Linked DNA regions of Homo sapiens: all the other regions are reported to be linked to region 3. Evidence: microRNA targets listed by miRTarBase, many of them from high-throughput screens and not tested one by one. Region 3 holds a microRNA gene; each other region holds the end of a gene's coding sequence.
The links. Region 3 holds the annotated microRNA hsa-miR-4312 (GGCCUUGUUCCUGUCCCCA, at 2,968-2,986, shown strand). A microRNA usually pairs through its seed, bases 2 to 8, with sites in the 3' UTR of a target mRNA and lowers its output. Matches are read on the target gene's strand: a 7mer-m8 pairs with bases 2 to 8, a 7mer-A1 pairs with bases 2 to 7 and ends in A, and an 8mer does both.

Region 1: the mRNA of EEIG2 is a reported target of hsa-miR-4312. Seed matches in the 3' UTR shown: 7mer-A1 at 3,162-3,168.
Region 2: miRTarBase lists ATXN1L as a target of hsa-miR-4312. Seed matches in the 3' UTR shown: 7mer-A1 at 3,396-3,402 and 7mer-m8 at 2,901-2,907.

What each region holds. Positions count from the first base shown.
Region 1 is chr1:108,634,164-108,638,375 of GRCh38, reverse strand. It overlaps EEIG2 (EEIG family member 2), which reads right to left. Exons shown (of 11, transcript NM_001010883.3): 11 at 1-3,268. The coding sequence ends at 3,226. Among named protein-coding and RNA genes, the nearest start is that of HENMT1, 25 kb to the left of the region's middle.
Region 2 is chr16:71,851,159-71,855,358 of GRCh38, reverse strand. ATXN1L (ataxin 1 like) reads right to left here. Exons shown (of 3, transcript NM_001137675.4): 3 at 1-4,200. The coding sequence ends at 3,549. Among named protein-coding and RNA genes, the nearest start is that of ATXN1L, 7.3 kb to the right of the region's middle. RefSeq lists enhancers at 1,921-2,060, 3,880-4,200.
Region 3 is chr15:68,800,611-68,804,845 of GRCh38, reverse strand. It overlaps MIR4312 (microRNA 4312), which reads left to right and starts at 2,921; the gene lies at 2,921-2,996. All of the region lies in intron 1 of ANP32A (acidic nuclear phosphoprotein 32 family member A), which reads left to right. ANP32A-IT1 (ANP32A intronic transcript 1) reads left to right here. Exons shown (of 1, transcript NR_026808.1): 1 at 1-1,025.

The DNA of each region.
Region 1 (4,212 bases), not on the chromosome of region 3:
CTGTTTGAATTTGAGTATGTTTTGTCTGGAGGCTAGTTGGAGATTTTTTTCTCCCTTCTAGCAACAAATTGGCTAAGTGGTCAACCTCTGTGGCTCACAGTTTTGTAAAAAAAGCATACAGAAAAGAAACTAGGCTGGGCACAGTGGCTCATGCCTGTGGTCCTAGCACTTTGGGAGGCCAAGGTGGGAGGCTCATTTGAGCCTGGGAGTTGGGAGGCTGTAGTGAGCAACGATTGCGCCACTACACTCCAGCCTAGGTGACCGAGCAAGACACTGTCTCTCTTAAAAAAGGAAGAAAAAAAAGTAAAAAAGAAAAAAATCTGGAATTTGGATATTATTCTGATAGTGTTAAGCTGGAATGGGAGGAGTGGTGGAGTTTAGGATTCTTGGTCAAGACTTTTTCAAGATCATAAGCACTAATCCACATTAGCTGTTGGTATAAGCAGCCTTCAAAAACACCACAAAGGGGAGTCAACAATTCGAGTGTAAACTGATGGCTCAGGGCCTTCTCTGCCCTTTACTAGCCTTCATGATCTGTCGGGTCTCAGCAGCTCAGGGCACAGGAGGAGGTGGGTCTCCTGACTGGCCTGTGCATTCTCCCAAACAAGATGTTTAAGACTCTTCTTTATCTCGTCACAAATACACAGCTTTGAAATACCATTAGTCTTTTTCTCTAGGATATAATTAGAAAAAGCCAGGCATGGAGATAGAAAAGACATAATTAGAAAAAGTATTGTATACATCTGCAAATTCTTCAACACTGGGTGATTTGAAATTTGACTTTAATATTTAAAAATAAATTTATTAATAATCTAAATTTTCAAGTCAAATTTTCTAAACTCAAAACATAAACAGAAGTGAACTTGTTATTTAATAAACAGATTTTTTCAACAGCTATATGGTTAAGATGTTCTTAACCATGCTCTCAGAAAAGGACAATCAGAAAGTAAGGCAGACACTTAGGCAACCCTTAGCGAGTATTTTGAAAGGACTGCACTGAAATTTGAACACAAAGTGTGCCAATGGAACACAAAATAGAAAATGGATCCAGACTTTTGCTGACTACAGAAGACATAGACATTAGTTCTTTTTTCTTCCTTATCAGTGTTTCTATTTATTAAAATATTTGTTATATTTACTACTACATAAATCAAGGTGTATCTGATGGCTGCTAAGATTATAAAGGCATGATTTTTATGCTTTTCAAAATCTCTCTACTTTTTAAAAAGAATTCTGTACCATTTAAAATACTGAGAACCAGTCTTGTATAGAGAGGTGTCGGACCAAGGGCAGCCAAGGATGAGTAAGATGGGCATCACCCTGATTGCAGCACCTCTTACGTGTCTGATGAATGTCCTCACTGAACCCCACTTACAATCTAGTTTTATCATTTTCAAAACTGCAAAATCATTTGCACAGCACCAATAAAAATATAGCCTAGAAATAATATTTTGAAAATAGAAAAATATGTTTTTAAAAAATGTCATAATAAATATCTCTCTAAATAATATCTTCATATCTCTATAAAAAACTTTCTTTGATTTTTCCCATAATATATAATGAACGGATCAGTTCACATGAAGACATAATGCAAGTCTTTACCACTTAAGTCCCTTGGTTAGGCTAAAATGTTCAGGTCAATGTTTTATTCTTAAAAATAAATCTTAAAAAATAAAAAGTATAACTCAGAACATTCTCTCTCTCAGAGTCTCTCTACATTCAAAATATAAAACAGGGTATCATTTTTTAAAAACTTCCAGAATCTCTTTGTTGGAATAGTATTGGATTAATGCAGAATACTCAATCCTTGAAATATAAAAAACAGCAACATAAGTTCTAATATTAACTATTCAAAATTTTCCAAACCTTTAAATTTGGATATTAAAATAATATAATTTCCTCCTTATTTTTGCCAACGTGAAAACACCTAGACCAAAGTCATTCTATTCTGACATATTGTCTTTCTTGGATATGACTTTGAAAGTAAGAATTGGGGAATTACTGGTTATACAGATTCTACATTTTTCTTCACTAATAGTGATTCCAAGAAAGTTTAGATCTTTCCACATGGAAACCGTCATGTAAGAACAGAAAAACTCTAAGGTTTATCTGCTGTGCTGCTCAACTGGATCCAGACCAGGTATTCTTATTTTAAAAGCTATATTTGATAGATGTTATATTCTACTCTTGCTTCAAAACAAATCACTTTCGACACAGTGGGGAAGAAAACAGTACCTACAGAGAGCTAAAATGGAAACCTAGTAGTCTGCATCAGTCATGGCAAGCAGCTGTCATGCTGCTACCCACCACCACTTCGGAAAACTGTTAGCCTCAGATAAGTCTGAATTTACATAGAAAAGGCTTCTCTGTTTCTGACCATATTACAATTCTCCTCTTTTTCTACATTTTGACTCCTGAAACCAGCAGATCTTAATATTCAATGAGTTAAGATAGCTCTTCTGTTAGGGTGCCCAACACAGTAAGTGTTAAACTTATTTTGAGTCTTTTATGTAGTGCTTGGGGGTGGTTCTGCAGCTCATCTAATATTAATGACAATTAACAATATATACTGCATAACGGCATTACATCCATTCACGTATCTCTGACTTAAATGCACTTGTTATTTCATTTATGACTGATACACTGAGAATTATGAATAAGCACATCACATGTTTAAATTGTAGTCTAACATTTTCCCAAAGCATGAACACCCACACTTTATACAATGCTGTAGGTAGTGTAATAGGGAAGATTTCCAGAACAGGAATTACAACTATCTTGACAAAATCTATAGGGTTTAAGTTATATTCATGTACTGTCTCTCAAACTAAAAAAACCAAACCATAGAGCCCAAATCTATTGAGCCTCTTGATCACAGATTTTTACACTTGAATCCTAAAATGATACTCCGATGTATATAATGCTGTTTTCTCCGCTGGGGTGTTCTGAAAGAAAAAGCAGGCTTTTCATTATGATGTGCAGTGACCACAGAAGCCAGGTGCTTCCAAGGCACACAGTGGCACAGTGCCTGGAGACTGCCATGTAGATGTTCCCCTTTGGTGGCTGGTACAGGATGGCGGTGGGTCCTTCCAGAGAAGAAACCAGCATTGGCTTTCCTCTTGATAGTTGAGGTTCATTTTCTATTAAGTGCTTGAATAAAATGCCTTGATACATCAACTACTCACATCTTAAATCCACAAGGAAATGTTTTCACCGACTTGACTTCTAGCGTTTGATCACAACTTGTTCATAAGCTCCAGACCCCACCCTAAAACAGCAGTGGAAAAAAACTTCAAAATTTTGAGCTGCAGTGTTTGAAACTGTTCCAAGTAACCTTACCCCTGGAGAGATGGGGCACTGGGTATTTTTCTACTAGATTTGATTTCCATAACGTTTAAAGGCATCACGGATAGAAACTATGTGAAATATTAAATGTTTATCATTAATACATTGGATTAGCCTAGATCCTGATTCTCTCACACTTATTCCCACAATAATCTATTAGAATTCCCCAATTCTTGACCTATCGACAAATGGTGGCAAGAAATGCTCTTCAAACATGTTTATCTATTCATTCTAAAATAGGTCTCATCCAAGAGCATATGTTGACTCTGGCAGTGCATCAGGACTTGCACTGAGTTAATGATGATGGTCTTCAGCTGTCATAATATTGTGGCGTTTTCATGGCAGGGTCTCATTCTGTTGCCCAGATGGAAGTGCAGTGGCATGACTGAAGCTCACTGCAACCAGAACTCCTGGGCTCAAGCAATCCTCCTAACTCAGCCTTCCAAAGTGCTGGATTACAGGCATGAGCCACCACGCCTGGCCCATTACTGCCTGAAGTTATCACCAGGTACCCATTTCCCAATTTGTCAAGATGTTAGGGTATACCCTACTACTTGTCATTTTACCATGAGTGTGCCTGAGTTTAGTAAGCCCAGAAGCAACCACCATGACTAGTGTCTCTCCTTAATGGCATTTTAAGAGGAAATTCTAAACAACAGAAGTAAGGTAGTGATTACTAGCCCACCATGGACTTGGCTGGACTTCTCAGTTGATTGCCCAGAAACTCCTGTTCTCACAGATTCATTCTACAGAAGAAATAGGAACTTCCTCAACAGAATGCCAGTGAGCACCCATTCATCCTACAGAAAATCAGAATTTGAAGAAACCATGGTGGGCAGCATGGCACACTGGCTTTTAGATGCCCTT
Region 2 (4,200 bases), not on the chromosome of region 3:
CACAAAGGAAAGAAGTTAATACAACAGAAGACACCACTAGTAGAAACCTGCTTGTTTCTCCCTCAAGATAGTCAGACATTTGGAGCCAGAGGGCTCCCAACAGCACTGAAGCCTTATCCCTTTGGATTTACCAGCCCACCAGCAGCATTTCATACCATCCCTATCGAACATGACTTCGCTATAAAATAACATGGCCTAACACAGGTAAGAATGAACCGGACGCCTACACTTAATCTACATGGCCAAAGACATGGAAGGATAGGGAGCTGTAGAGGACAGCAGGCAGGACAGTGAGCGGACAGCAGCAGTGGCAAAGCAGCGCAGGGCAAAGCCCTTGGTGTTATGACCAACTGGGACCAAGAATATAGAAGGACCAGCCCAGATTGGCTGGGGGCCCTCCCTCAGGTACAAGTACTCAGCTCTGAACTCCCAGAGCCCCTTCCCCCCATGCCACCTCTTCCTCATGTATACTAATCTTGATAGGAATGATTCAAGACTTGGCTTATTATCCATCCATGACTGGGTTCCCCTATTCCCAAATTGGTATACACATTTTTATACAGCGCCAGACAGTCAGCAGTCCTCCTTTCTATTCCTAAGAGCTGGAAATGTCCTACTGCTGACAAGGGACAGGCTCTGGCCCTTGTCAACTGCTCATTCTTAAAAAGTTGGCAACTTCCCACTAAAATACTCGCTAAAAACTGCTCTCATGTCTCCTGCAAACTCAGGAAATTCCTATAAGGAAGAATGGACACACCACAGGTTAGTCATATTTTTCATGCCTGGAGGAAAAGACTAAACTAGAGGTTAAAGGCAAGGGGGAGGCCACAGCTCTGACCGAGATTTAGAGCACAGAGATTCTTTTCCTGGGGACCATATTTTATGACAGATACCTTTGCAGCTCAGCAAAATCAAGTATTAATATGTTATATATGCATGGAACGATATTGTGGTATTACAGGAACTGCTGGTATTGCTTCACCAGCAAGAGACAGCAACAGAAAGGTCAGGGCCCAACTTGCCAGGGTCCTCAAGAATTTCTCTTTCCAGAATTCAGTGGAAGTTACCAGGTTGGAAAGTCACAAGTAGCCCAAGTGGAAGGTGATTTGATCTAAACTAATTGGTCTGTATCTGGTTAGACATAGGTTTGCCCCATAAGGAGAAAGCTCAGCTTGTGTCCTTGCAGACACTGCTTGAGCATCTACTGTGTACATGTCACTAAATTCAGTTGATGAGCCTTCCTATGAGGAAGGACGCTTGTGAGAAACCCATGCAAACAATGAACTCTAGGAATGAGTTGCTCATGAAACAGCCAGAGATGAGGCCTTCTCCCAAGGCCTTCTCATTTGAGGGGATTCCTCAAGACTCAACCCCACAGGCCCCCACTGTAGGAAACAAGCCAGAGAAAGCAGCATTCAGAGAATGGGGGACAGAGAAGGGGAAAGATATGATCCCAAATGCAGTACAAAGTTGGCGTCTGGTTCTGACACAAACCAGATACTGAAGCACTCACGGTCAGGTCAGCAACCTCCTTTGATGGACCCCCAAAAGCTGACTGACCAGGCAAACTGCTTTCAAGGAATGAAAGAGTGGAGGGTAGGGCTTGTAGCAAACAAGCCAGTTTCAGTCACTCTGTTCCCCCAGGAGAACAACCTTTAGCACCTGAACACTAAGAATGACTCCATTCTCAGAACTTCCCCTCCCCCCAGGAGGTAGGTAAGATTATTTATCCCCATTTGGCAGGTGGGGAGGAAGTGAAAGAGCCAGAGGTCACGAGACTTGCCGAAAGTCCTTGACAGAGCAGAGATCAGACCTCAGAGGTTTGGACTCCTGATGCCAGGCCAGGTCTCGGCCAATCCAAGTATACCTTATAAAGGACATGCCAGGATCATAGCCTGGGAGAAGTCTAACCAGAGAGCTGCGTGGACAATACCCTGAGTTGCCTTCAAGAGTCTAAAGACCCCCAAAAAACAAACAAAAAAACTTACCCACCTGAAAGCTAGTGGGGGAGCCTAATTCCCAATACCCAGTGGAACCCCACGGTCTGAGCTGATGCTAAAAGTTGTGAAGAAAATGTGGGATTAAGACATTGGTGGGGGGTAGGGGGGGTGCCAATGCAACCAAGATTGAAAATACTTTTTGCAGAGGAATATACCAACACAAAATGACATCTATTCAGGTACTGAAATGTTATCAAGACTATCCTAGAATCTTAGAGCTGGTGGTGGGAGGGGATGGCTTGGAGGCACCAGAATGCTGGGAGAAGCAGTGGAATAAGACAGGAGGGGCATATGGGACATGTGAAAATGCCATGATGGGCACTGCCCAGCCACGCATTCGCCCTGGCCCAGGGCATAGTTCCCTTCTTGTTTCTTCACCAAGCTGTTTGGCAGTGGAAGTGGAGGGGACATGATTTTGAGATTTTAAAAATAGAGATTATAGCTGAAGGGGAAACCAGAGAGACCCCCTACCCACCAAAAACTAGAGGTCTTGGTCAGAGTGGACAAAACCAACTTTGCAGACAAGGAAAGGCAGTGCAGCTACAAATGAGGCCCAGGTCACGACACCATGCAGCGGTCAGCGCAGCAGGAGGGTGGGGGTGGCGCAGGCACTTGGGCACAACACAGACAAAGGTGGGGGGTCAGTGCCTGGGAAAAAGGGTCTACTAGTTCTAAAGTCACCATTACCAGCAAGATTCTGTGAGATTTCAAAGTGGGTCTGGCATGCTGAGATGGAGGAGCTTTGTTAGGTGAGCTACCTTTCCAGAGGGCCTGCCTAGAACCCAGTCAGCCTGGCTATCAAGTCTTTCTCCCAAAGTCCCCTGACTGAGTCCCTGGCAAGGTAGTACTTCACTCTGAACCCTGAAGGGGCTCTCCCTCCGGGCCCCCGTGCTGCTAGAAGCCTTGTAGGCAGAATGGTGAGGAGAGATGGGGAAGGGCTATGAAGCAGAGGATCAAGCAGAGTCCTGCAGATGAGAGTGCTCCTCCCCCACACACCCAGCCATAGACATCTGGAACAAAATCACCCTTTAAAGTGCGCATCTCTCACAAGAAGGGTTCTGGGTGGGAACCCTCTTATTTCCAACCTTGGGGCCTCCTGCCCTTCTACCACAAAAAAGAAAAAAAACTTCTGACAGTTTAACTGCTACTATAAGCTGTGGATCATCATTTTTGGCTCTTTCTTTACTCCCTCCCTCTGCCATCTGCTCCCAAAGCCTGGACTTTCTCTTGCAGGAGCTAGGGATGGGGAGGAAAGAACAGGGAGGCCCTGATTTTGGAATGTTTCTTCTCCTGTGTGCACCCCCTTCCTTCCTTGCCCCAGGCCTGCTGCTCCCCATCACAACACCCTCTGGGGTTGTCCTGAAAGGATGCCATGGGGTAATGAACAACAGATCCTGCCTTGGGAGGCTGACTTCATGCCTCCCCTTTCCCCCAAATCTCACTGCCAAGAAAGCCATTCCCTGCTCGGCGTGTGCAAATCCTCTGCCTGCTCACGGCGGCGAGGCGAGGCTCTGGGGTAAAGCCCCAGTCCTGGTCTGGGGAAGAGGTTCATTTTCCCGCATTGGAACGCCCTTCAATGGACAGCTTTACCTCCTGTGGAATGAAAGAGGGACGGAGCAGCGCAGCCCGTGCCTCCTCCCCTTGCATGCTGTATCTTTGGAAGCTCGGGGCTGGCCAGCAGGCCTGAGCACCGGACTCAGGCTGGGAAGGCTCTACCACACGGGAGCCCTCTCCTGCCGGCTGGCTCTTCCCCTCACTGTCACATAGCTCTCTGGATCCCAAGACCGTCCTCTCAGGCCTTTCTCGGGGGGGACCCAGCTGGCTTGGGGGAGCACAGCTGGCCTGAGAAACTGAGTTACTGTTCAAGCTCTGTAAACTGATAGAGATGCAGACATCTCCCACCTGTAGCCGATGGCAGGGCAGAGAGAAGAGTTGTGTCGTCCGCCCAGGGCTGCAAGAGGACCAACCCTGGCCATATACAAAGAAGGGGTGCTCGGGGGGCACTTCGATGCTCACTTTGCTCTGCTGCTCACCAACCACAAAATGCAGCATGACAAATCCAGGCCATTGGCTCTCCTGAATGTCCACGACCGTGCTAGAGTCAATCTTCAGCCCCCCGCTCACTTCGGCACTGCGCACAAAATCCTGGGTCTGGAGGTCCTCCACCCGCTTCAGCTCTCCCGTAGCCAGCTGGATGATG
Region 3 (4,235 bases):
CTGTTTTTCTTGAAGCTTCTCAAAGGCAGACACAGCCGCGTGCAGCGGCTCACGCCTACAATCTCAGCACGTTGGGAGGTCGAGGCAGGTGGATCACGAGGCCAGGAGATCGAGACCATCCTGGCCAACATGGTGAAACCCCATCTCTACAAAAATACAAAAATTAATTGGGCGTGGTGGTGGGCGCCTGTAATCCCAGCTACTCAGGAGGCTGAGGCAGGAGAATCAGAGGTTGCAGTGAACCGAGATTGTGCCACTACACTCCAGCCTGGCCACAGAGCGAGACTCAGAAAACAAGGGAAGACACTAGATTTTCATTTTTGTACTAAATAGAAAAAGTAATATCTTTTTAAAAATGTGTTTTGTTTGTTTTTAACTGTTTGTTCATGCCAATGTGCCAGGCACCATATTTATTCTTTAATCTATACAGAAATGCTGCTGGATGAATGGAATTATGCTCACTCTGCCAATGAGGGAACCAAGGCTCAGAAAGGTTAAGTAACCAACCTAAGGTCAGGTAGTACTGAGGAGCTGTGCTTGGATACAAAACCAGGTCATCCAACCTGGAATCTTAGCTTTGACCCCCAACCTTCTCCCGGCAACTTTGATGATAATATGGAAATACCTTAGACTCTTGACTTGACTTTACTTTCTCTTCTCTGTTATAAAATCTGCTACATTTCTTTTCCTGGGAAAGCGAAATAGATTATGCCAAAAGTTCTGATTTTTAAAAATGTTTTATTGTGGGCCGGGCGCAGTGGCTCATGCCTGTAATCCCAGGACTTTGGGAGGCCGAGGTGGGTGGATCATGAAGTCAGGAGATCAAGACCATCCTGGCCAACACAGTGAAACCCCATGTCTACTAAAAATACAAAAATTAACTGGGCTTGGTGGTGCACGCCTGTAATCCCAGCTACTCAGGAGGCTGAGGCAGGAGAATCCCTTGAACCTGGGAGGCGGAGGTTGTAGTGAGCCGAGATTGTGCCACTGCACTCCAGCCTGGCAACAGAGCAAGACTCCGTCTCAAAAAAAAAAAAAAAAAAAAAAGTTTGTGAAATAGAGCACATAAAACCAAACAATATGTGTGAGATTTAATGATTTTTGTCCTATTTTTTTTCTATTTATTATTTAATACTTTCAGGGGTATCCTAGTAAAAGCGACTTTCCATGTGCCTGCCTGTGCCTTTCTGTGCCAGGGTCTTAAGAAATGTGTGTGGGTTTCCTCTGTGGCTCTGACACTCCATCAAACACCAGGGCTTGTGCACGCAGGTGAGAAGCATACCCAGGTGCCTCAGAGATATTGAAGAGGGTCTGGAATGTGGGAGAGAGGCAAATGGCTTTCCAATAAAAGTAGGCTAAGACATAATTAGGGGCTTAGGTGCTGCTTTAAAAAATAAGTAGCAGTGTATTCCAGACTCCTCTAAGAAAAGAGAATTGCTCATTGTGGAACAGGCATGGCAATGCAGTGCCTTTGCCTGGAACACCTTGCTGCTGCCATCACTAAGACCCATTCTGGGACAAGAGGAGGCTTACCCCTTATTGAGTATCTGCCATGAGCTTTGTGTGGTCCTTGCTTGCTAGGTACTTGGCAAGCATTATCTTTTTTACCTTTTAAAACACCCCTGAGGTGTAGGTAAGGCCACCCATTTCCTGACAGAGATTGGCCTACAAAGGTCAGATGGCTTCCGGGGCACACTGAGCGGCCCTTGTGTGTCGGAATGTTCCCTTCTGTTTGTCCCTTCCAGGCTGGACACTTTGGGAGCAGAAGTCAAAGACACCTTTATCATTGTACCCTCAGCACCTGGTGTAGTGCCTGGGATTTAGTAGTTCTGAGGAGCGTGTATTGAATGAATGGAGGTTAAGTAACTTAGACATTAGATAGTAGGACTCTGGGCTGGGCACAATGGCTCACGTCTGTAATCCCAGCACTTTGGGAGGCCAAGGTGGGTGGATCACCTGAGGTCAGGAGTTCGAGACCAGCCTGACCAACATGGTGAAACCCCGTCTCTACCAAAAATATAAAAAATTAGCCGGGCATGATGGCACATACCTGTAATCCCAGCTACTTGGGAGGCTGAGGCAGGAGAATCACTTGAACCTGGGAGGTGGAAGTTGCGCTGAGCCGAGATGGCGTCACTGCCCGCCAGCCTGGGCGAGAAGAACAAAATTCCGTCTCAAATAAATAAATAAGATAATAGGACTCTGAGGCTGTATGACTGCCACCCTGTAGGTCAGAAATGGGATCTGATTCCAGCTCTTATCCGTAAGCTAGGTGAATGCAAACTGACATGCCCAAGCTTATTGATATTGCAAAATTATTTATTACACAAAAGATTGGAAGCAACCCAGATACTCATCAATAAGAGACTGGTTAAGAAAAATGATGACACACTATGTAGTTGCAAAGAAGAAACGAAGAGGGTTTTTATGTACTCTTACACAAACTCCATGAAAAAAAGGCAAGGCAATGATTAGTATAATATGCTAGGTTTTTAATAAAAGAGAGAAGAAATAAGATTCTGAATTTGCTTGTATGTGTGTGAACATTCTAGAGAGATGCTTAGCAGGTGGTATAGTTGACTGGGCAGACAGAGGATAAGATAGGAGGGAGAGTTAACTGTATATCTTATATATTTTGGTTTTAAAACCATGAGAATGAATGTGTTAGTCAAAAAATTGAAAAGGAGAAAAAAAAAGAGGTGACCTTGAACCAGCGAGTCCACTGACCTGTGTGTTAGCCTCCCTATCCGTATGGTGAGGCAGTTGGACCAGATTGAGACTCCTTAGTCTGAAGTGGAATGTTGTGAATATTGTATTTCTCAGGCTTTCATGGACTTTTCCAGGAGATCCTGACCTTGTGCTAGGGTAATCTGCAGTCCCTTCCGTTGGTAGCCTGGCCTGGCCCTCTCAGGATGTTTGAGAAAGGTTGGGGGCACAGAGAGCAAGGAGCCTTCCCCAGAGGAGTCAGGCCTTGTTCCTGTCCCCATTCCTCAGAGTTTATCCTCTGAGCACACACCTCTGGTGTGACTCAGTTGGTTCTTCCTCCAAAGTGAAGGATTACAGTGAAGAGAGACTGTTCTGGAGCATTCTGGCAAAGTGCTACAGTTTAATAGGAAGGAAAAAAATGGCAGAACATTTTCCGGGTTATTTTTAATGCTTTTCAGTTCTGCAAACATTTATTGAAAGCTAAGTGCAAGGCAGTGTGGGGGAATCAGTTGCATAATACCTCACCTCTGCTTTCTGGGGTGCAAAGTCTTGGGTAAGAAACATGCTTATAAAATTTATCATAGTAACCTCTAGGACAGCCTGGCTTACCCATGATCTCATTGGGTCCCATGGAGACAGGTGGGATTGGTAGGGACTCGTCCCATTTTACAGGTGAAGAAACTGAATCTCAGTGAAGTCTTGTCCAAAGCCACACAGTTTGTAAGCAGTAAAGCCTGAAACCAAACCAGATCTTCCGACTACTTCTCATGTGTCCAAACCCCCATAATCAAAACATTCTCCCATAGGAGATGTCCGGGGTGTAGATTAGGCCCATTTCTACCTGGAAACATGGGGCAAGCACAATCCTGATTAAAGCTTCTTCTCCTTCACTTTTTTCCTTTGCTTTTTTTTTTTTTTTTCTTCTTCTTCTTCCTTTAAGGCAGAGCAAGGTAACTCTTAGGCTTATGGCCAGATCTCAGGTCTTAACTACTTTCCTGTGGTCTAAGCAATTCTTCTTGCATTGCCTGTGAAACCCACTATCCTACCACCAGTTGCATGTGGAATGTCCCCTGTGGGTAAAGGTGTGTAACCTACAGCAGCCTTCTCTCCACCCCAATCTCATGCTGCCACCTCCTTTCTTCCCTTCCACAAATTCTCTCGTACCCACCTGGCTTCCTAGCTGTTCCCCAATAAGGCCAAGCATGCCACCCACTCAGGATCTTTGCCCTGGCTTTTCCTTCTTTCTGTCTGGAAGGCCCTCCTAGTTGTTGACTTGGCCTTACGTCTCTGCTGAAAGCTCACTTTGGATAGGCCTTCCTGGTTACCCTCTCTAAAGTAGTGTCCCTTGTCACTATTGCTTTTCTGTCCTTTTCTTTTCTTTCTTTTTTTTTTTTTTGAGACGGAGTCTCGCTGTGTCGCCCAGGCTGGAGCGCAGTGGCGGGATCTCGGCTCACTGCAAGCTCCGCCTCCCTGGTTCACGCCATTCTCCTGCCTCAGCCTCCGGAGTAGCTGGGACTACAGGTGCCCGC